Homo sapiens: one gene and its partners. The protein of the gene in region 1 binds, or shares a complex with, the protein of each later gene. Each region holds a gene or a part of one and is shown in the gene's direction. Other genes may lie near its edges.

Region 1 (5,513 bases):
TACTATTTTATGTAAGGGACTTCACTATCTGCAGATTTTGGTATCCTTGAGGGACACTAGAACCAATCCCCCATGGATACCTAAGGATAAGTGTATCCACTCAATCCTTGGAGGTATCACTAGCAGCCAACAGTTTGCTTGCATATATTTCTAGAGTTTCTTTTCTTTACATATACTACGGCATTTTTTTTTTTTTGCCAACTGTAAATAGGATATTATAAATGCTTATGTCTTTGTTTTCTTCTTAGAACATAAAACTCAGCCTCATTGAGTTGTGACTTGAAAGCTCTGCCTCATTGTTCTCTCCCTCCAGGATCAGTGAGGAGGAGGACCTGCACCTGGGGACATCGTTTTCTGCAGAAACCAACCGAAGGGATGAGGATGCAGACATGTAAGTGTCAGTCTGTTTGGCTGTGAGCAGTTGGGGCTGGACTCCAGTCAGAGTCCAAGATATTTAGTCAACAGATGACATTTCTAGAATTTTCTAGAAGATGTCAAAGTTGGCCCCTCTCTTTCTACTTCCCAGCTTAAGAACTTTGAAAACCTCTTAAAAGGTCTTTTCAGGCCGGGCACGGTAGCTCTCACCTGTAGTCCCAGCACTTTGGGAGGCCGAGGCAGGTGGATCATCTGAGGTGGGGAGTTCGAGACCAGACTGACCAACATGGAGAAACCCCGTCCCTACTGAAAATACAAAATTAGCTGGGTGTGGTAGTGGGCACCTGTAATCCCAGCTACTCGGGAGGCTGAGGCAGGAGAATTGCTTGAACCTGGGAGGCAGAGCTTGCGGCGAGCCAAGATCTCGCCATTGCACTCCAGCCTGGGCAACAAGAGTGAAACTCCGTCTCCAAAATATAAAAAATAAAAACTTGTTTTCAAAGGTGGTTTCATGACTAGTAATATTTCCCCAAAACATTGCAGGGATAAAACATGGGCTTGCCCACTTTTTATTTTGCCAACAAAGCTATTGGCAAACTATCATCTTTCTGTCTTCAAAGAACCTTGTACATCATAACACCAATAGATTAGTGGGACATAACCTCATAGGTTGGTGCTTCTTTAGAAAATTTCTAACTTGATGAAAAAACTCAAGTTATTTTTTTTCTCGTTTCTCCATGGACTGTCACTGGTCTGCGGGCCAGTGTTGGGGACCACTGATTTAGAGGACACCTGGTGTGTGTTTCCCACCCCTCCCTGAGGCCTCTGGGTTTCTCACTTCAGGATGAAGTACATTGAGACAGAGCTAAAGAAGAGGAAAGGGATCGTGGAACATGAGGAACAGAAAGTTAAGCCAAAGAATGCAGAGGACTGTCTTTATGAACTTCCAGAAAACATCCGTGTTTCCTCAGCAAAGAAGACCGAGGAGATGCTTTCCAACCAGATGCTGAGTGGCATTCCTGAGGTGGACCTGGGCATCGAGTATGTTTGAGACCCCTAGGCAGAAGACACAGTGCTTTCCAGTTAAAAGTTATGGGGGACAGGCCAGGCACGGTGGCTCATGCCTGTAATCCTAGCACTTTGGGAGGCTGAGGCGGGTGGATCACGAGGTCAGGAGTTCAAGACCAGCCCGGCCAAGATGGTCGAACCCCGTCTCTACTAAAAATACAAAAATTAGCTGGGCATGGTGGCAGGCACCTGTAGTCCAGCTACTTGGGAGGCTGAGGCAGGAAATTGCTTGAACCCTGAAGGTGGAGGTTGCAGTGAGGCGAGATCATGCCACTGCACTCCAGTCTGGCGACAGAGCAAGACTCCATCTCAAAAAAAAAGGAAAAAAAAATTTATGGGGGACAGGTATGGTGGCTGATGCCTATAAGCCTATAATCCCAGTACTTGGGAGGCCAAGGCAGGAGGATCACGTGAGGCCAGGAGATCAGCCTGAGAAATATAGTCAGACTCCTGTCTCTCAAAAAAATTTAAAAAATTAGCTGGGCTGTCACTTGAGCTCAGGAGTTGAGGCTACAGTGAGCCATGATTGCACCACTGCACACCAGTCTGGGTGACAGAGTAAGACCCTTTAAAAAAAAAAAAAAAAGGCCAGACATGGTGACTTGTGCCTGTTATCCTAGCTCTTTGGGAGGCCAAGGTGGGAGGATCACTTGAGCCCAGGAGTTCAAGACCAGCCTGGGCAATGTAATGAGACCCCATGTTCTTATCTGTGTCCTTAGAATCCTACAAATACAAATGAGATTGTCCCTGGCAGGTTGTTGCTAGAAGTTTCGCTGAAGGCTTGATCAGAGTAGTAAGGGCCCCTGACTGCTGGAAGCAAAAGTGGTTCTTTAGCGTGTTACAGCTGTTCAGCTGTATCAGGCCCTTTATTCTTCTGTTTTCTTCTAGCAGGAGCCATGTTAAAGGCTCACTCACCCCTTCTCCCCATGATCCTTCTTAAAATATCCACTTTAAAAGGGAATTGTTATGGAAGAGGTACAATTGTTAGAATAATCTTCTGGTACAGTAGAAAGCTGGGAGGCTTCTGGGCTCTTTTCTGGCCTTTACAAACTTTGAGCCTTAAGCATTTTACTTCTCTGAAGCTCAATTTGCTCTTGATCAGAAGAGCAGAGTAACTGTGGTTCTCCGACAGCCGTGAGAGTCCCGTGAGAATGTGACTACAAGTGTGCTTGATAAAGTGGAGAGCTGTGCCCCAGGACACATGATTTTCTTATGTACTGCTGGGCTGCCAGCCTCACCACTCATGTCTGAGTAGTAAGGTGCTATCATCTTCTAAGTGGTGTGGTTTCTTTCTCTCCATAGTGCTAAAATAAAAAATATCATTTCCACGGAGGATGCCAAGGCCCGTCTGCTGGCAGAGCAGCAGAACAAGAAGAAAGACAGCGAGACCTCCTTCGTGCCTACCAACATGGCTGTGAATTATGTGCAGCACAACAGATGTAAGCCCCTCGGAGAGCAGTCTTGCCCCCATTCCCCTATTTGGGCTGAGATCCCTAGGAACCTCATGTTCTAACGTGTCCCCTGGTCTCTTTGGGTCCAGTTTATCATGAGGAGCTCAACGCGCCCATACGGAGAAACAAAGAAGAGCCCAAGGCCCGGCCCTTGAGAGTAGGTGACACGGAGAAGCCAGAGCCTGAGCGTGAGTGCAACAAAGGCCTCGGGGCTGCCTGGAGTGCTCAGCAATGTGGGAACCCATGGAGGCAGGATGCAGCGGGGGACAGGGTGGAGCCTGGCATTGGAGCCGGGGCATATGGGTTCCAGTCCATGCTCTGGACCATGACTATGTGCCTTCCCCTTTCTAAGCCTCAGTTTCCTCATTGGAATCCTAATAGAACCTACCTGTTAGGATTACTCTGAGAATTCATACTCTCTCATATTCTCACGCACAGTAGAGACTCAAGAAGTTAGAAAATTTCAGTAAGGACAAATAAAAGCTACTCATAAGGTTAGCTGGGTGCAGTGCCTCACACTTGTAGTCTCAGCTGCTGGGGAAGCTGGGACAGGAGGATTGCTTGAGACTAAGAGTTCAAGGCTGCAGTGAGCTATGATTGGACCACTGCACTCTAGCCTGCGTGACAGAGTGAGACCACATCTTTTTTTTAAAGAAAAGAAAAAGGTATTGGCCATGCTCGGTGGCCCATGCCTGTAATCCCAGCACTTTGGGAGGCAGAGGCAGGCAGATCACCTAAGGTCAGGAGTTCAAGACGAGCCTGGCCAACATGGTGAACCCCGTCTCTACTAAAAATACAAAAATTAGCCAGGTGAGGTGGCAGGTGCCTGTAATCCCAGCTACTCAGGAGGCTGAGGCAGGAGAATCACTTGAACTCGGGAGTTGGAGGTTGCAGTGAGCTGAGATCATGCCATTACACTCTAGCCTGGGCAACAGGGTGAGACTCCATCTCAAAAAAAAGAAAAGAAAAGAAAAAAAAAAAGACAAATACGTATCTACTGAGGCCCTACTGTGTTCACTGGGTTAGGCGCTGGGGCTCCTGTGGGGAAGGAAACAGGCAGTTGTCTTTGCCTGCATGGAGTAAAGTCTAGCAGTGGGTTCCAGCATGGCAAACCACCTTTCCTGTTCTTTTCCTTCTCAGGGTCCCCTCCTAACCGCAAGCGTCCTGCTAACGAGAAGGCAACTGATGACTATCATTATGAGAAGTTCAAGAAAATGAATAGGCGGTACTGAGTTGTGCAGAGTGGGATGTAAATATCGCCTTCCTCTCCCTATATCCCTCCCATGAAAAATGGCTTCCTGGCCGGGCGTGGTGGCTCCTGCCTGTAATCCCAGCACTTTGGGAGGCCGAGGTGGGCGGATCACCTGAGGTCGGGAGTTTGAGACCAGCCTGACCAACATGGAGAAACCCAGTCTCTACTGAAAATACAGAAAAGTTAGCCAGGCGTGGTGGCACATGCCTGTAATCCCAGCTGCTCAGGAGGCTGAGGCAGGAGAATTGCTTGAACCCAAGAGGCGGAGGTTGTGGTGAGCCGAGATTGCACCTTTGTACTCCAGCCTGGGCAACGAGCAAAAAACTCTGTCTCAAAAAAAAAAAAAAAAAAAAAAAAGAAAAAGAAAAATGGCTTCCAGGACAGAGCATGCTCATTTGCTGGCGGACAGTTCCAGAAACAGACCCTGTTAGTCCTTCTACTTACCTGCTGGATTTTTCAAGCACTAAATTTATAACTTTTTGAAACAAAATAATGTGTAATTTTCCATTTGGGGGCAAACTCTATTCTTGTGAGCATTATTAAATCTTGTTTGTAAATATATTGTCTTTCTCTTAATATTTGCTCTGGGTCAGGAAGAAGCTGTTCACGGTGTGATAATACTCTTTAGATTGTGCTTTCATTATTATAGATGCATCATGTCTTCTGCTTTCACGTGTCTGGGATGGGGTCAGAAATGCATCCTCCAGCTGACAGAAAAATCCAGGATGAGATCAGAAGGATACTGGTGTTTTCTGACTTTTACAAAATTACTTGTTTGTTTTCATTAAAAAAAAAGCATAAACTATGTTTCTTATTACTATTAGAATTATTAAATTTCAAAATGAATCCAACCTTATTGTTTGTATTATGTTTCTTATACCAGCATCAGGTAATGTTTTTAAAGCCCATGGTTTGGGTAGCCTAAATGTAAAACTGAATTACTGAGATGGATTTTCTCATTTATTTCAAACAGTGAGCTATGATTGGACCACTGCAGCATAGACATGCTGCAACCTGCTGTCAAGTACCTTCTTACCTGTGCCCTCATTTTTCCTGAGGCATCCACAGGGGTCCAAAAGAGGAAAGAGCAGATTGGCTGACTTCTGGGTGGATTTAGAGCAGGTATTGTGGTTACAGTGGTTTGGCCCAGGAGTCAGATCTGAGCCCACCTCGCAGCTTACTACTTGTGTCCTTGGACAGATCCTTTTCACTCTTAGCCTCAGTTTTCTCATCTGTAAAATGGAGATTTTTTTTTTTCCTCCACTTGAATATGGTCAGTGAAGGCAGGAACCATGTGTGCCTAATTTTTAAATTTGAATCCCCAGGGCATAGCCCATAATCTGACAGATAGGCAGTCCTCAAAACTA
Region 2 (7,027 bases), on another chromosome or scaffold:
CAGACATCTTGTAGATTAGGAAAAGTGACTTGGTCGAGGTCATACACCTATATAGTGACAAGTAAGAAGCTAGAGGAGTGCCGAGCGCAGTGGCTCATGCCTGTAATCCCAGCACTTTGGGAGGCTGAGGCGGGCGGATCACTTGAGGTCAGGAGTTCAAGACCAGTGTGGCTAACATAGTGAAACCCCCGTCTCTACTAAAAATAACAAAAATTAGCTGAGTGTGGTGGCAGGCGCCTGTAATCCCAGCTACTTGGGAAGCTGAGGCAGGAGAATCAGTTAAACCTGGGAGGCAGAGGCTACAGTGAGCTGAGATCCCACCATTGCACTCTAGCCTGGGCAACAGAGTGAGACTCCAACTCAAAAAAAAAAAAAAAAAAAAAGCCTGGGTGTGGTGGCTCACACCTGTAATCCCAGCACTTTGGGAGGGCAAGGTGGGCAGATCACCTGATGTCAGGAGTTCAAGACCAGCCTGGCCAACATGACAAAACCCCGTCTCTACAAAAATTAGCCAGGTTTGATGGCAGGTGCCTGTTATTCAAGCCACTCACCTGTAATTCAAGCCACTTGGGAGGCTGAGGTTGGAGAATCACTTGAACCCAGGAGGCAGAGGTTGCAGTGAGCCAAGATCGCGCCATTGCACTCCAGTCTGGGCAACAGAGTGGTACCCCGTCTCAAAAAAAAAAAAAAAAAAAAAAGGGCCAGGTGTGGTGGCTCATGCCTGTAATCCCAGCACTTTGGGAGGCCAAGGCGGGTGGATCACAAGGTCAGGAGTTCGAGACCAGTCTGGCCAATGTGGTGAAACCCTGTTTCTACTAAATATACAAAAATTAGCCTGGTGTGGTGGCACGCGCCTGTAATCCCAGCTACCTGGGAGGCTGAGGCAGGAGAATCGCTGGAACCCAGGAGGCGGAGGTTGCAGTGAGCCGAGATAGCACCACTGCACTCCAGCCTGAGCAACAGAGCGAGACTCCATCTCAAAAAAAAAGAAGTTAGAAGAGTCAGTCATTCTCATAAAAAAGCCTGCATAATTTGTTGTTGTTTTTTTTTTAAGACAATCTTGTTCTGTCGTTTAGGCTGGAATGCGGTGGTATGATCTCAGCCCACTACAGCCTCTGCCTGCCAGGCTCAAGCAATCATCCTGCCTCAGTCTCCCAAGTAGCTGGGACTACCAGCATGTGCCACCACTCCCAGCTAATTTTTCCTTTTTTTTGTATAGATGGGTTTTCACCATGTTGCCCAGGCTGGTCTTGAATTCCTGAGCTCAAGTGATCCACCCACCTCAGCCTCCCAAAGTGCTGGGATTACAGGTGTGAGTTATAGTGCCTGGCCCAACGCTTAATAACTTTTTCCTGAAATGCAGATTAGTTTGAAATGAATTTTATTTACGGGTTCATTTTTAATGTTTGAACCTGCTTCTAGGTAGGGTTAAAGTTGGGTGACTTGATGACTCACGAAATACACAACTATGAAGTTTGGAAAGTGTGGTGGTATGCACCTGTAGTCCCACCTGCTCTGGAGGCTAAAGTGAGAGGATCACTTGAGCCTAGGAGGTAAAGGCTGCAGTGAGCCGTGGCTGTGCCACTGCACTCCAGTATGGACAGCAGAGCAAGACCCTGTATCAAAAAACAAATAAAAACAATAATAATTTTTTTTAATTAAAGGAGAAAAGTTTGGGAAGTTTGACTTACATATTTGATCCTCGAATAGGGAGTTATTTTGGTTTTGGCATTAGATAGTTTTGTAGCTTGGTTCATGGCACTTGAGCAGCAAATTCATGGCCCTTACACTGAATACTAAAATGTTATACAGGCCAGCCAGTGAAGCTAGTTGTAAGTGCAGAGATTCATAAACAGAGTCGTCCCGTGATTTGTCCGTGTCTCCCCGTATTAACATTTTACTCTTACTTGGCGAAGGGAGTTGGGCTTCCTGAGCATGGTCTCCGTGTTGAGGTGGCTTTTCCTTCTTTCCCTGCTTCTGTCACCAGCTATGTGGATTACCCCATCTATGACGTGCTTCAGATGGTGGGCCACGCCAACCGCCCTTTGCAGGACGATGAGGGGCGCTGTGTCATCATGTGTCAGGGCTCCAAGAAGGTCAGTCCTAGACTCATGGAGCCTCTTGGATCCGTAGCCTCAGAATGGATTCTTTAATCTTTCTTTTGATAGATGTCTTCAGTAACTTTAGTCTCTTAACTTCTGCCTCTCTTATTTACACAATTCTTTTGTGACGAGCCTGCCACCCACATGGAATTTTGCTGCCTTTTGCTTTTGCTGCTGCCGTTGGCTCCACGTGTTGAGGTCTTCACCCTCTACTTGGTTCTCTCCTTCCTCCTTGGGCTGCTCACTGCTCTGCCCTCGTGACTTGCTGTACCTCTGTTCCCACTGCGTATTGTCACCAGTGATGCACTTTCTAAATGTGTGGCTTCTTCCATTTTGGTATTAGTTAGGTCTCACACAGGGACCATGCCCTGTTGATTTGCCCTTGGCCCTCTGTGACCGTGTTGTCACTAATTCTTTATTACTCCTTCTCCCTCTCCAACCCACAGGATTTCTTCAAGAAGTTCTTATATGAGCCATTGCCAGTAGAATCTCACCTGGACCACTGTATGCATGACCACTTCAATGCTGAGATCGTCACCAAGACCATTGAGAACAAGCAGGATGCTGTGGACTACCTCACCTGGACCTTTCTGTACCGCCGCATGACACAGAACCCCAATTACTACAACCTGCAGGGTCAGTGGGCTTGGGAGCACACGTGATCCTTTGGTGGTTCTCACAGTCTTTGCTGGGCATCTTCTTGAGGCTCCCCACTCACCTCTCGCCTCCATAGGCATCTCCCATCGTCACTTGTCGGACCACTTGTCAGAGCTGGTGGAGCAGACCCTGAGTGACCTGGAGCAGTCCAAGTGCATCAGCATCGAGGACGAGATGGACGTGGCGCCTCTGAACCTAGGCATGATCGCCGCCTACTATTACATCAACTACACCACCATTGGTGAGGCCCGGCATGGCCCGTGTCCTGTCTGTGGGAGCCTTTTTACACGGGTCAGGAGCCCACTGGGATGAGAGGTGCGCCCGTGTTTGTCAGCGGGATGACACTGCAGGGGACAGCAGGGGAGCCCGGGCAGTTCTGCTCCTTCTCTGCCTGGTTTTAGCTTCTCTCACATTTCCTTTTTCTGTCAGAGCTCTTCAGCATGTCCCTCAATGCCAAGACCAAGGTGCGAGGGCTTATCGAGATCATCTCCAATGCAGCAGAGTATGAGAACATTCCCATCCGGCACCATGAAGACAATCTCCTGAGGCAGGTGAGGACAGCAGACTTCAGGAGAGCATCCTGGGAACAACAAACTCGGCCTGTGTGCCCAGAGCACATGGCATCCCTGCCACCAACACGCCCATACGCATCCCCCGACCCCCGCCATATGTCCTCCCGCTCCATACCTCCCTCAAACCCATCTCCATCCCATTACCACCCACATGCCTCAGGGTGTTGAAGGGCTGTGTGAGCCTGGGCCACGTGGTGCTTTGGCCTGAGCTGGTCTCAGGCAGGGTCACCTGTTCATCACCAGCTATTTTTCTTCCACTTTGTAGTTGGCTCAGAAGGTCCCCCACAAGCTGAATAACCCTAAGTTCAATGATCCGCACGTCAAGACCAACCTGCTCCTGCAGGCTCACTTGTCTCGCATGCAGCTGAGTGCTGAGTTGCAGTCAGATACGGAGGAAATCCTTAGTAAGGTAGAGTGTGGGTGTGGGGCAGAGGGGTCAGTGGTGCTCTAAACATCTCAGCTCCAACTCCGCCCACTTTTATACTCCTTTTCCTGTTCAGGCAATCCGGCTCATCCAGGCCTGCGTGGATGTCCTTTCCAGCAATGGGTGGCTCAGCCCTGCTCTGGCAGCTATGGAACTGGCCCAGATGGTCACCCAAGCCATGTGGTCCAAGGACTCATACCTGAAGCAGCTGCCACACTTCACCTCTGAGCATATCAAACGTTGCACAGACAAGGTGAGCCGGGTCAGCCTAGAGGGTCAGGTGGGTGAGCCTGAGAGCCCAGTGTTGTGGACCGAGCGTGGGTTGCGGGAGGTGAGTCTCAGTAAGTTAAACTTTTAGTTATGGTTCCTCCGAAGGTGCTCCCTGTTGAGATGCTAGAGAGCCTGCCAACTGTGGGCTGTGTTCTTTCTGCAGCTGTTTTATCTAGATGACTTGATAGTGTAGGAGGTAAAATTAGTAGCTCTTTGCTGCCTGTGTCATTTGCTGTTGGCCCGTGTTCTCTCTTTCCTGACGTCTGAATACTCACTGCAGGGAGTGGAGAGTGTTTTCGACATCATGGAGATGGAGGATGAAGAACGGAACGCGTTGCTTCAGCTGACTGACAGCCAGATTGCAGATGTGGCTCGCTTTTGTAACCGCTACCCTAATATCGAACTATCTTATGAGGTGGTAGATAAGGACAGCATCCGCAGGTGAGCCAGAGGTGGTGCCTGTTGGGCACAGCATAATAGTGTGCTCTGAGCCCACTGCCCCATCACTGACGTGCGCCCCTCCTCTCCCCCTGCAGTGGCGGGCCAGTTGTGGTGCTGGTGCAGCTGGAGCGAGAGGAGGAAGTCACAGGCCCTGTCATTGCGCCTCTCTTCCCGCAGGTGCGTCCTGGTAGCTGGCTTGGTCAGGTGTCAACTCACCCTATCCATTGGCTAGGTGCTTGGTACAAGGGCACACTGTCCCTGAGGGAGGGAAACTTTAGACTGATAATCAGCTCACAAGGGTGAGAATTAATCTTGAGGCTATGGGGTTTTTTTTCTGTTTGTTTCTGCTTAAACAGTTTAGGGCCGGGCGCAGTGGCTCACGCCTGTAATCCCAGCACTTTGGGAGGCCAAGGCGGGCGGATCACGAGGTCAGGAGTTCGAGACCAGCCTGGCCAACATAGTGAAACCCCGTCTCTACTAAAAATACAAAAATTAGCTGTGCGTGGTGGTGGGCACCTGTAGTCCCAGCTACTCAGGAGGTTGAGTCAGGAGAATGGTGTGAACCCAGGAGGCGGAGGCTGCAGCGAGCCGAGATTGCCCCACTGCACACCAGCCCAGGCGAGTGTGAGACTTCATCTCAAAAAAAAAAAAAAAAAAAAATTTAGATGACTGGTCATTGTTAAACCCGTCAGTTGTGTAGTATTGTCCATCTCTCTGACTCTTTAAGATGCATTTGTCTTTAACTCCGATGGCTGCAGGACACTTGGGCTTTCCTGGTTGTTTCTTCTTTTTTCTCACTGCCACTTACTGTGCTTCTGGGTGCTTGGTTTTTTACCACCAGAAAGAAATTCTGGTTCTCTTTATATGGGAGAATAATTGAAGGTTGATAGCAGAAACCAGATACTGTCATGTTTAATTCTGTAAACTAATTGTTTCAAGGCTCTGAGTAAAGACTGCTTTTAACTGGGACTCTTCGTCTTTGTGACAGCGGGGCAGCCCGTAGACAGGGCTGCAAGGCCTGCTGTGGATATCTCTGTGCACATTCAGCTCTGTGTTAAGCTTTTTCTTTTTTTTTGAGACGGAGTCTCGCTCTGTCGCCCAGGCTGGACTGCAGTGGCGCGATCTCGGCTCACTGCAAGCTCCGCCTCCCGGAATCACGCCATCCTCCTGCCTCAGCCTCCCGAGTAGCTGGGACTACAGGCACCCGCCACCATGCCCGGCTAATTTCTTTTTTGTATTTTTGGTAGAGACGGAGTTTCACCATGTTAGCCAGTATGGTCTCGATCTCCTGGCCTCGTGATCCACCCGCCTCGGCCTCCCAAAGTGCTGGGATTACAGGCGTGAGCCACCGCGCCCAGCCTAAGCTTTTTCTCATCTGGCAGATTTGCCTTGTACTTAAAAGTATCTCTAAGGAACTCAAAGCTCCTAGGCCCCAAAGACTAGACCTCTAATAGTAGTACCTTGGACTTAGTGGCAGGTACTAAGTGGGAGAAGGTACCTTGGCACAAGGAAATGAGCCAGAACCAACAAATGAATTCATCTACTTAAAAAATTAAGTCTGTTTGAGACAACTTTTGATAGTATTAAAATGTTAAATCTAATTGTATTTCGGGAAGAAACTTTGGAAAGCTATCTGATTTTTGTTCTCTCTTTTGTAACTGTACCATTTTCATGGTTGCCTATGGTCATCAAGTTTTACATGCTGAAATTCTTGGTTTTGGATCACTGCAGAAACGTGAAGAGGGCTGGTGGGTGGTGATTGGAGATGCCAAGTCCAATAGCCTCATCTCCATCAAGAGGCTGACCTTGCAGCAGAAGGCCAAGGTGAGTGTGTCCACTGGCCCTAGCATTTGTTCTGGCATGGGGGAAGGGTGAGAATGCTTCCTGTGTCCATGCTCATCTTGATTTCTGCCTGCTCTTTCTAGGTGAAGTTGGACTTTGTGGCCCCAGCCACTGGTGCCCACAACTACACTCTGTACTTCATGAGTGACGCTTACATGGGATGTGACCAGGAGTACAAATTCAGCGTGGATGTGAAAGAAGCTGAGACAGACAGTGATTCAGATTGAGTCCTGAGGCATTTACTTTTGGGTAAAGGAGAGTTGAGCCTGAATTAGGAATGTGTACATTGTAGGAATCCTGGTTGTGGGGACCAGGTCTGTGGGCCTCAGGTCTGGCCAGCCAGGGCTGGTGCTGTCCCCGCCTACCTCCACTTCCTTTCCCTTGCTCACTCTGGATCCAGTGACAGCAGGTGTCATGGGTCAAGCATAAATCATATATAGCATTTTCAGGCATGTTCCTGGTAGTTCTTTTGAGTCTGACATTCTAATAAAATAATTTGTAGAAACCATTTGTCTTTGTAGTGATTCCAAATTAAAAGTTTTCTTTCTCCAACCTGAGGGCACGGCCAAAAAGATCTGGTTATTTTTTAGCCAGGAACGTGCTTGTTAATGAGTATGTCTGGAGGACAGACCTGCTCATTAGGTGTGCTGTCCCCTGTAGCCTCGTGAGTCAGCCCAGAGGAGGGTACATGCGACTGTGGCCTGGCCTCAGTGGTACCC
Region 3 (7,773 bases), on another chromosome or scaffold:
AGTCATCAATAGGAGGATGAGATTGGGAGAGACACTCGGTGCAGGAGGCTGAGTGAGCAGGGGAGCACTAAGACCCAGGGGTAGTGGAGGACTGCAGCAACGAGCTGGAGGAGGAGAAGTAAGCGGTGGGGGGTGGGAGCCATCTGGTACTTTGACAGCATTCAAAACAGCATCGGCCATAACAACAGAAATGGCCAGTCAGTCCCAAGGTATCCAGCAGCTTCTGCAAGCTGAGAAGCGGGCAGCTGAGAAGGTGGCAGATGCCAGAAAGAGTGAGTCTCCTCTTTCCTCCCTTAGGAGTTTGGAAAGAAAATTGGGGGTGGGGGACAGCAAACATTTTGGGAAAACCCAAGGCTGGCGGGAAGACAGACAGCTAGGGTCTGGAGGCTGGTTAGGAGGGAAGAAATGGATGGATATTAGAATCTGGCACCTGGTTGGCTGAGAGAAGGCTGTATAACTTTCTGGAAGGGACTGACTCCTGCTATTACATTGTGTGTGTGTGGGTCCATCCCCACTCACTGTCCTTTCTTCTGCCTCCAGGGAAGGCCCGGCGACTGAAGCAGGCAAAGGAGGAGGCACAGATGGAGGTGGAGCAATACCGCAGAGAGCGAGAGCACGAATTCCAGAGCAAGCAGCAGGCGGTGAGTTGAGGCAGAGTCGGGTTGAGACCCCACTGCAAGTTGGTGGGTGCATCTAGTGAGGTGTGTAAGGGTGACTCAACAAGAAAATATGGTGGCAGAGGGCTGAGGCTGAGGGGACCCTGGCAGGGACCACAACATTGGTGAAACTTTGTGATGATATGTAGGAGAGTCTGGGAGTTTTGAAGGCCACATAGAGCTTGTGGGCGGAATGCCACAGTCTGTGTAAAGTATAACATCTATGTGGAGTATGATTAACATTTGTGGTGGAGGGTAGAGTTTTATGGTCATGGATGGTGAGGTGGTGGGGATATTACGGTCTGTTTTAGGATGAAGTTGCATGTTAGGTCTAAGGGGAAAGGGGACTGTGTTGATCTCTTTGGTGTTGGGATATTTCTGTGGGATGGGGGTGGTTTCTGAGAGGGCCTTTCTTCTAGGCTTTGTTTCAGGATCTTTCCCCTCATATGCCTGGACCCTTGTCTGTTTCTGCTTTTCCCTTTCTCTCTTCCACCCCTCTCCCTACCCCCCAGGCCATGGGCTCCCAGGGGAACCTGTCTGCTGAGGTGGAGCAGGCTACAAGGCGCCAGGTGCAGGGCATGCAGAGCTCCCAGCAGAGAAACCGAGAGCGTGTCCTGGCCCAGCTTCTTGGCATGGTCTGCGACGTCAGGCCCCAGGTCCACCCCAACTACCGGATTTCTGCCTAGGGCCACCGTAGGGCCTGACTCCTTCTGCCAGTTCCCTCCCTCAAAGAAATCCTCCAATCAAAATCACCTCCCACCATAATCCCTGTCTTCTTTCCATCCCCTAGAAATCCTGGGAGGCAGGATCCAATAATTTTCCTGTGACACTTATAAATATCCTGCTCACATCTGAATCTCCTTGTTGTTCTTTAACCCTCACTGGGACTTTGTAAACTTCCAAGTCATTCTCACCTAAACCCTCTGTGAAATTTGTAATATGGGGAAGTAGGAATGTGGAAAACATCCTGACTTCAGTGTCTGGCCGATGTGGGTCCCTCTCTTGACCCTGTCACTTGCTGGCTGTGAAACCAGGACAAGCTACTTAACTTGGTAGCCTCGATGTCCTCCTCTGTGAAACTGGGATGATAATAATGCCTACCTTGTGAGGGTTGCTTCAATGATTAGGAATCATTCTGTAAAGTCTAGCACAGTTCCTTGCATGTTGTAGCAGTGATTCAGTAAGTAGCAACCCTGTGATACTATTACCACCACCTGCTCACTGGTCAAAACCTACACAGCTGTTTCCTCACGTCCATCACTGGCTCTCTAATTCCACTTGTTCATTCTGTGACCCTAGTTATTTTCTGAAAAATTGGTTCTTCTCTTTTCCCAGAGACCTTCTGATCTCCAAAAAGAGGAGATGACTACATTTAGCCCCTCTCTTATAATTCCAGGTAGATAACTGCATTTTGTAGCCTCTCTTTGTTTTTCTTTTGCTGATCTTTGTCTTTATTAGATTTTCCTCCTTTCCTATTTCCCCAAAGACTTATCAGATGCTCATTGCTTTCTAAGATCTAAAATGATACTGTGTTCCCTCATATGCATGCCCTTCCTTTCTATATCCTTGACACCTTACTTTCCCATTGTAACAATAAAAAAAGTATCAATAAAATAATTATTGGCAAATAAATTGGTGAGTTGAAGCAGCCTCCTTTTGCCTCATCATTTCTCATTTTCAGTCACTTTGTTTTTTTTTTTTTTGAGATGGAGTTTTGCTCTTGTTGCCCAGGCTGGAATACAATGGCGTGATCTCAGCTCATTGCAACCTCTGCCTCCCAGGTTCAAGCGATTCTCCTGCCTCAGCCTCCCAAGTTGCTGGAATTATGGGTGTGTGCCACCACGCCTGGCTATTTTTTGTATTTTTAGTAGAGATGGGGTTTCGCCATGTTGGTCAGGCTGGTCTCAAACTCCTGACCTCAAGTGATCCACCTGCCTTGGCCTCCCAAAGTGCTGAGATTAGAGGTGTGAGCCACTGTGCCTGGCCTTCAGTCACTTTCTTGTTTTTTGTTTACATATTCCCTAAACAGCCCAAATGGCTATCCTTTGAAACTTCTTGGAGAAACAAGAACAAGTAGTACTTTATTATTTCTCTAAAGTGAGAAACATGGTTCCTCATTTGGGAATCTGAGGACTATAGATCGCAACTGTAGAGAAAAGCTGGAGTGTAGGAGCAAGTGCTCTTTGCCCCTTTACCTTGCATTTTCTTCATAGCACTTACTGCTACTGGTTTTTTGAGACAAGGTCCTGCTGTGTTGCCCAGGCTGGAGTTCCAGCTCACGGCAGCCTTGACCCCCTGGACTCAAATGATCCTCCCACTTCAGCCTCCTGAGTAGCTGGGATTACGGGCGAGTGCCACTATGCCTTGCTAATTTTAAAATTTTTTGTAGAGATGGGGTCTCACTTGCCCAGGCTGGTCTGAAACTCCTGGGCTCAAGCAATCCTTCGGGCTCGGCTTCCTCAAGGGTTGGGTTACAGGCCTGAGCCACTGCACCCTGACCACTTATCGATACTTGACATTATATTTGTGTTTATGTGTTTTCTTTCCTGTAATGTAAACACTGTGAGAACAGGGCTGTTCACCGTTGTGTCCCCAGATCCTAGGACAACATGTGGCACAAGGGAGGCAGTTGATAAATACTTTTGAATAAATTAAATGATACTTGGGAAAATACCTTCTATGACACCATTCTTGAATTAGTTACTTCATTTGTCACTGAAGACAAGCTTACTTCACCAAGAATTTGAACCAATAAGGTAACCTGCAGTGTATTTACTAACCAGATTCTTTGAGCAGGGAGGCAGAATACAATAGAGAATGAGAGATGTTTGCATCCTGGCTGTAACCTCACCAGCCGTACTGCTTGAGATATGTTGCTTTGCTTCGCTTCTGTCAATAAGATGAGAATAACGGTACCTACTCCTTAGTATTAAATGATTAAGTATGTTAACAGGGAGAGGGCCAAACGTTTGTTGTTTTATTACACAGCAGGACATCAGGTCTTACTTTTGTAGCTCCCCATCTCAAAGACGGGGATAGCAAATGTTTCATTCAGGAAAAAAATCCAGGTTGAACAATGGGGCTGTTGGGGCGGGGCCAAGAACATTCTGCTCGAATTAACAGTATTAATGGGCCGGGCGCGGTGGCTCACGCCTGTAATCCCAGCACTCTGGGAGGCCGAAGTGGGTGGATCACCTGAGGTCATACATGGGTGAAGCCCCGTCTCTACTAAAAAAACAAAAATTTGCTGGGCGTGGTGGCGGGCGCCTGTAATCCTAGCTACTCGGGAGGCTGAGGCAGGAGAATCGCTTGAACCCGGGAAGCAGCGGTTGCAGTGAGCCGAGATCAGGACATTGCACTCCCGCCTGGGCGACAGGGCGAGACTCTGTCTCAAAACAAAAACAAAAACAGTATTAATGGAATGTAGTATAACCCTCAAGCCCTACTATTAACACTTGGGGCCGAATCCAGACCCCGTCTTCCCGCTCGGATTCAGAACACCTTCCTGACTCACTGGCCCTAGGGCATCAGCTACCTCGGACAGCATCCTTTTGGGAAAATACCGCCCACCAGCCCCACGACTGGGAAAGAGTCGGGAAACACCCCCGAGCAATCCAGTTCCCTGAGACTTCCCTCCTCCCTCCCCTCAGCTAGGGCCTGCCGGTTCCTAGTGCGTGCCCAGCAGTCCTCAGGTCACCTTCACTACCGGGCCAAGGACCCCGTGGGAACTCGCAGCCTTCGCCACACTCGTTCCTCGCGCATCCATGGAGGGGTGCCTACAGAGAAGACCTGCGTGGCAAAAACCTAAACGAAGAGATGAGGGGCATGGAGAGGAGTAGGATAAGAGAATAAAGATAACAGTGGGGGGGAGACGTTAGTTTCCTTTATATCTTTTGTTACTGGCGGTAGCAGTGAAGTTAGAAACGGTTTTAAAACAAATTTCAGACAGGCATTTTCCAAAGGCAAGCCTGGAGCGCACGGATCTGTATAACCGCGGAAGGCCCTGTTTCCGGTCCCTTGCGCCTGCGCTCTTGCAGCCAAGAAGGCGGGAGGCTGGAGTAGAGGGAAGCCTGCAACCGGAAGTGAAGGCAGATTTCCCTCCTTCGTCGCTGTTGCTGCCGCCATACGCGCTCTCCCTGTTTAGGTAAGCTTTGGCCTTCGCTACAATCCGTTTCCATCTGCGCTTCTCCGCACCCATCCCGTCACATGGGTTCCTGATACCCTTTTCACAGGCGATGGTCTGGTCGCTGGGGCCTAGTTGGTTCGCTATTTCCTTAGCTTGCATCCCTTTCGAGAGCAAAGAGCTCCTGGGGGAAGGAAGGGAAGCTAAGGGGGGACCCAATCCAAGATGGTGTCCTCGGCGCCATTGTGTTCGTTTTGCTCCCTTCTTCCAATGGGTTCTTCTCATATTGGAGGCCTCAGCATCAATGAGAGGCGGCGCTCGGCGTCCCTTGGTCTTGGTATTTGCGGAGGGCGGGGCTCTTCTCACCTTCCTTGTCCTTTCTTGAGCTCTTTCTCGGCCCTCGGTGGGACTGGGAGGAGGAGCTGGTTTCTGGGCCCAGTTGGATTTTTCTCACCTTGACTTGCCCAACTTAATTTGGAGTGCCTTCCAAGTGTTTACGATACGATTGGTGTCATTGTATGTTTCTCCAAAAGGAGTCTCACCTTCGTAGCGTAACAGTGATGTGAGACCACTTGGTAAAGATCCTGTTAAAGCCTGGGCGGGGATTGCCTTTCTCTGTCACCTATTAGCTTTCTTATTGTAGGGTGGAGACATGAATTTTGTTTTTTTGTGGCCGAGCCATTTGTCTTGCACCGCCCCTCCCCCCCATGCTAATTACACAAGGCTTGCTTAAACAGCGGAAGGGAGGATACTGAGAAGTGGGAGGCTGAGAGCTATGGGAGGTGGACGGCGGCCATATGATGTTTTCTTTTCGAAAGGTGAGCGCTTTGCGCAGTGATGACCCTCATCTATCACCCTTGACTGATGGCTGCTGAGTTAGGCATCCATAACGGTGGGATTATAATAGGGAAAGCGGAGTCTTCCTTTGAGGACTTTTCAGGACTCTACTTGTCATCTCCATTTTCCACTTTACTAAGTTATTAGTCGTATTTTACCTTTTATTATCTATTCTATTTCCTCACTGTTACTTTCAGATCAAGAATTTATAAGTTGGTCTTCCCCTTCCAACTTTTCTGGTTTCCGCTACTGTGATTGCTAATCTTGTTGGGAACCTCTGTCCTAACCACTTTCCCTGGTACTGCTTTTTCTGTTCTGTTATATTTGCTTTTCGTTTTTATGTTTTGTATCTGTTTTTCTTTCCAGGTAAAAGTTTCCTGGTTTAGGGAAAGTGGGAACTGGGGATGGAAAAGAGGTGGTGAAGGCTGTGCTCGTGATTAAGTCTTGCTTTTTTTTTTCCCCCCTCCAGCTCTTCTGTTAGAAATAGTATCTTTGTTTTCCTTTGCTGTTCCTCAATCCCCTACTCTTCACCCCTTGTTTTCACCTATTTTGCGAGAACCCATCCAGATCCCCCTTCCCTTCTTCCCCTGCCGGCCCAGTTATGGCAGAGAACGATGTGGACAATGAGCTCTTGGACTATGAAGATGATGAGGTGGAGACAGCAGCTGGGGGAGATGGGGCTGAGGCCCCTGCCAAGAAGGATGTCAAGGGCTCCTATGTCTCCATCCACAGCTCTGGCTTTCGTGACTTCCTGCTCAAGCCAGAGTTGCTCCGGGCCATTGTCGACTGTGGCTTTGAGCATCCGTCAGAAGGTAAATTTTCTCTTGGGCATGTAGTGCTCATTGGGCTCTTTAAGGGTACAATACAAAGATGTGTTTGTCGTTGCTCAGGTGGTGGTAAGGGTTTATACTTAAGGCTAGATCAGGGCCAGGTGCAGTGGCTCACGCCTGTAATCCCAGCACTTTGGGAGGCCGAGGCAGGAGGGTGGCCACTTGAGCTCAAAAGTGCAAGAGAAGCCTGGGCAACACAGCGAGACTCCTGTCTCTACAAAACGTTCAGAAATTAAGCAGGTGAAGGTTGAGGCTTCAGTGAGCCGTGATTGCACCACTGTGCACCAGCCGGGGCGACAGTGAGGAAGAAAAAATCAGGGGATAAGTATCAAAAACAATTTTGGATAGAGGAGGCTTATACAGGCTTATTCTTTCTTTCGTGATAGCACCAAAGTGCTAATGATCCAAAAGTGACTTCCAGGTCTGCCATTCATTCTTGTGACTGGCTTTTCTTGTCTGCTTATTTTTAATTTTGTCACTTGACTTCTAATTTTAAATTTCCAGAAAGGTCCTGCTTGGACCTGTAGTCTCCCTCTGTTGGGCCAGGCCAACTGTGGTCTCTGGAAACCTCTATGACTGGTTTAGAGATGACTGGCTTCTGGGTCAGGTACCAAGTCCTTCATTTTGTCCAGGGTTGTAGTAGTTACGTGACCCGAAGTATAGCAACCTAAGCAGGAGAAGTGGTCTGTGGCAGGTATTCAAATGTCATGAATTGTTACAGATTAAGAAAAATAAGGACAGAGCTAGGATCATTGAAGGTGAGCGGTTGGTAGATGCAAGGGGTTTGTTACTAGGACTGGGAAGGCCTAGATCTGGAGGAGGCTAAAGCTAGGAGGAATTAGGAGAGTCTGATTTTGAGGTGAATGTAATTGAGCAGAGAGAGGTAAAATGGGTCTGGAAGTTGGCAAGAACCAGGTAAATACTAGACTTTGAGAATTGAGTGGTAAGAAATGGGCTTGGCATGGTGAAAAAGGTAGAGTTATCTGGAGACTGAAGTCTAATTTATCTTCCTCCCCCCCCAACTTTTAGTCCAGCATGAGTGCATCCCTCAGGCCATTCTGGGAATGGATGTCCTGTGCCAGGCCAAGTCGGGCATGGGAAAGACAGCAGTGTTTGTCTTGGCCACACTGCAACAGCTGGAGCCAGTTACTGGGCAGGTATATTTGGGGAGAGTGCTGGGGAGGGGATTTTGGTTAGGACTATAAGGGAAGGGTGTTTTTGTCCTAGCTACATGATGCTTGCAGAGCCATGAGCACATGACCTCTGTTACCCTTGACAACCTGACAGCTGTGGGGGATGTTCTGTCGCAAGCGTGGGGTTCATGATT

Evidence for each region.
Region 2: the proteins of C9orf78 (region 1) and SNRNP200 are in contact, whole or in part, in a cryo-EM structure (PDB 7OS2), measured with the Homo sapiens proteins. Residues at the interface, in NP_057604.1 of Homo sapiens: Arg5, Lys6, Ile7, Phe8, Arg9, Arg10, Arg11, Glu16, Ser17, Glu19, Glu21, Asp23, Ser24, Glu25, Val27, Arg28, Lys30, Leu31, Thr34, Arg35, Val37, Gln38, Arg41, Arg43, Pro44, Asn45, Gly46, Val47, Ser48, Ala49; in NP_054733.2 of Homo sapiens: Val1188, His1189, Leu1190, Gln1191, Glu1201, Pro1283, Ser1285, Arg1287, His1288, Leu1289, Asp1729 (codon at 2,600), His1730 (codon at 2,603), Asn1769 (codon at 2,720), Tyr1770 (codon at 2,723), Asn1772 (codon at 2,729), Gln1774 (codon at 2,735), Gly1775 (codon at 2,738), His1780 (codon at 2,850), His1784 (codon at 2,862), Leu1788 (codon at 2,874), Gln1791 (codon at 2,883), Asp1795 (codon at 2,895), Gln1798 (codon at 2,904), Ser1799 (codon at 2,907), Tyr1826 (codon at 2,988), Thr1827 (codon at 2,991), Glu1830 (codon at 3,000), Leu1831 (codon at 3,191), Met1834 (codon at 3,200), Ser1835 (codon at 3,203).
Region 3: C9orf78 (region 1) and DDX39B share a complex: the UniProt entries of both Homo sapiens proteins name them as parts of the spliceosome.

Annotation. Positions count from the first base shown.
Region 1 is NC_000009.12:129,826,774-129,832,286, reverse strand, and holds the end of C9orf78 (splicing factor C9orf78), read left to right. Parts: intron 1-313; coding exon 314-391; intron 392-1,218; coding exon 1,219-1,416; intron 1,417-2,745; coding exon 2,746-2,882; intron 2,883-2,983; coding exon 2,984-3,082; intron 3,083-4,034; coding exon 4,035-4,126; 3' UTR 4,127-4,997; downstream 4,998-5,513. UniProt on the Homo sapiens protein: Plays a role in pre-mRNA splicing by promoting usage of the upstream 3'-splice site at alternative NAGNAG splice sites; these are sites featuring alternative acceptor motifs separated by only a few nucleotides. May also modulate exon inclusion events.
Region 2 is NC_000002.12:96,274,520-96,281,546, reverse strand, and holds part of SNRNP200 (U5 small nuclear ribonucleoprotein 200 kDa helicase), read left to right. Parts: intron 1-1,987; coding exon 1,988-2,096; intron 2,097-2,548; coding exon 2,549-2,738; intron 2,739-2,835; coding exon 2,836-3,000; intron 3,001-3,188; coding exon 3,189-3,310; intron 3,311-3,596; coding exon 3,597-3,740; intron 3,741-3,831; coding exon 3,832-4,008; intron 4,009-4,305; coding exon 4,306-4,466; intron 4,467-4,561; coding exon 4,562-4,643; intron 4,644-6,197; coding exon 6,198-6,290; intron 6,291-6,391; coding exon 6,392-6,535; 3' UTR 6,536-7,027. UniProt on the Homo sapiens protein: Catalyzes the ATP-dependent unwinding of U4/U6 RNA duplices, an essential step in the assembly of a catalytically active spliceosome. Plays a role in pre-mRNA splicing as a core component of precatalytic, catalytic and postcatalytic spliceosomal complexes.
Region 3 is NC_000006.12:31,538,977-31,546,749, reverse strand, and holds the start of DDX39B (spliceosome RNA helicase DDX39B), read left to right. Parts: upstream 1-4,746; 5' UTR 4,747-4,800; intron 4,801-5,571; exon of another isoform or gene 5,572-5,649; intron 5,650-6,085; 5' UTR 6,086-6,217; coding exon 6,218-6,428; intron 6,429-7,475; coding exon 7,476-7,603; intron 7,604-7,773. Other genes in the region: ATP6V1G2 (V-type proton ATPase subunit G 2), read left to right, coding at 191-272, 541-641, 1,169-1,342. UniProt on the Homo sapiens protein: Involved in nuclear export of spliced and unspliced mRNA. Component of the TREX complex which is thought to couple mRNA transcription, processing and nuclear export, and specifically associates with spliced mRNA and not with unspliced pre-mRNA.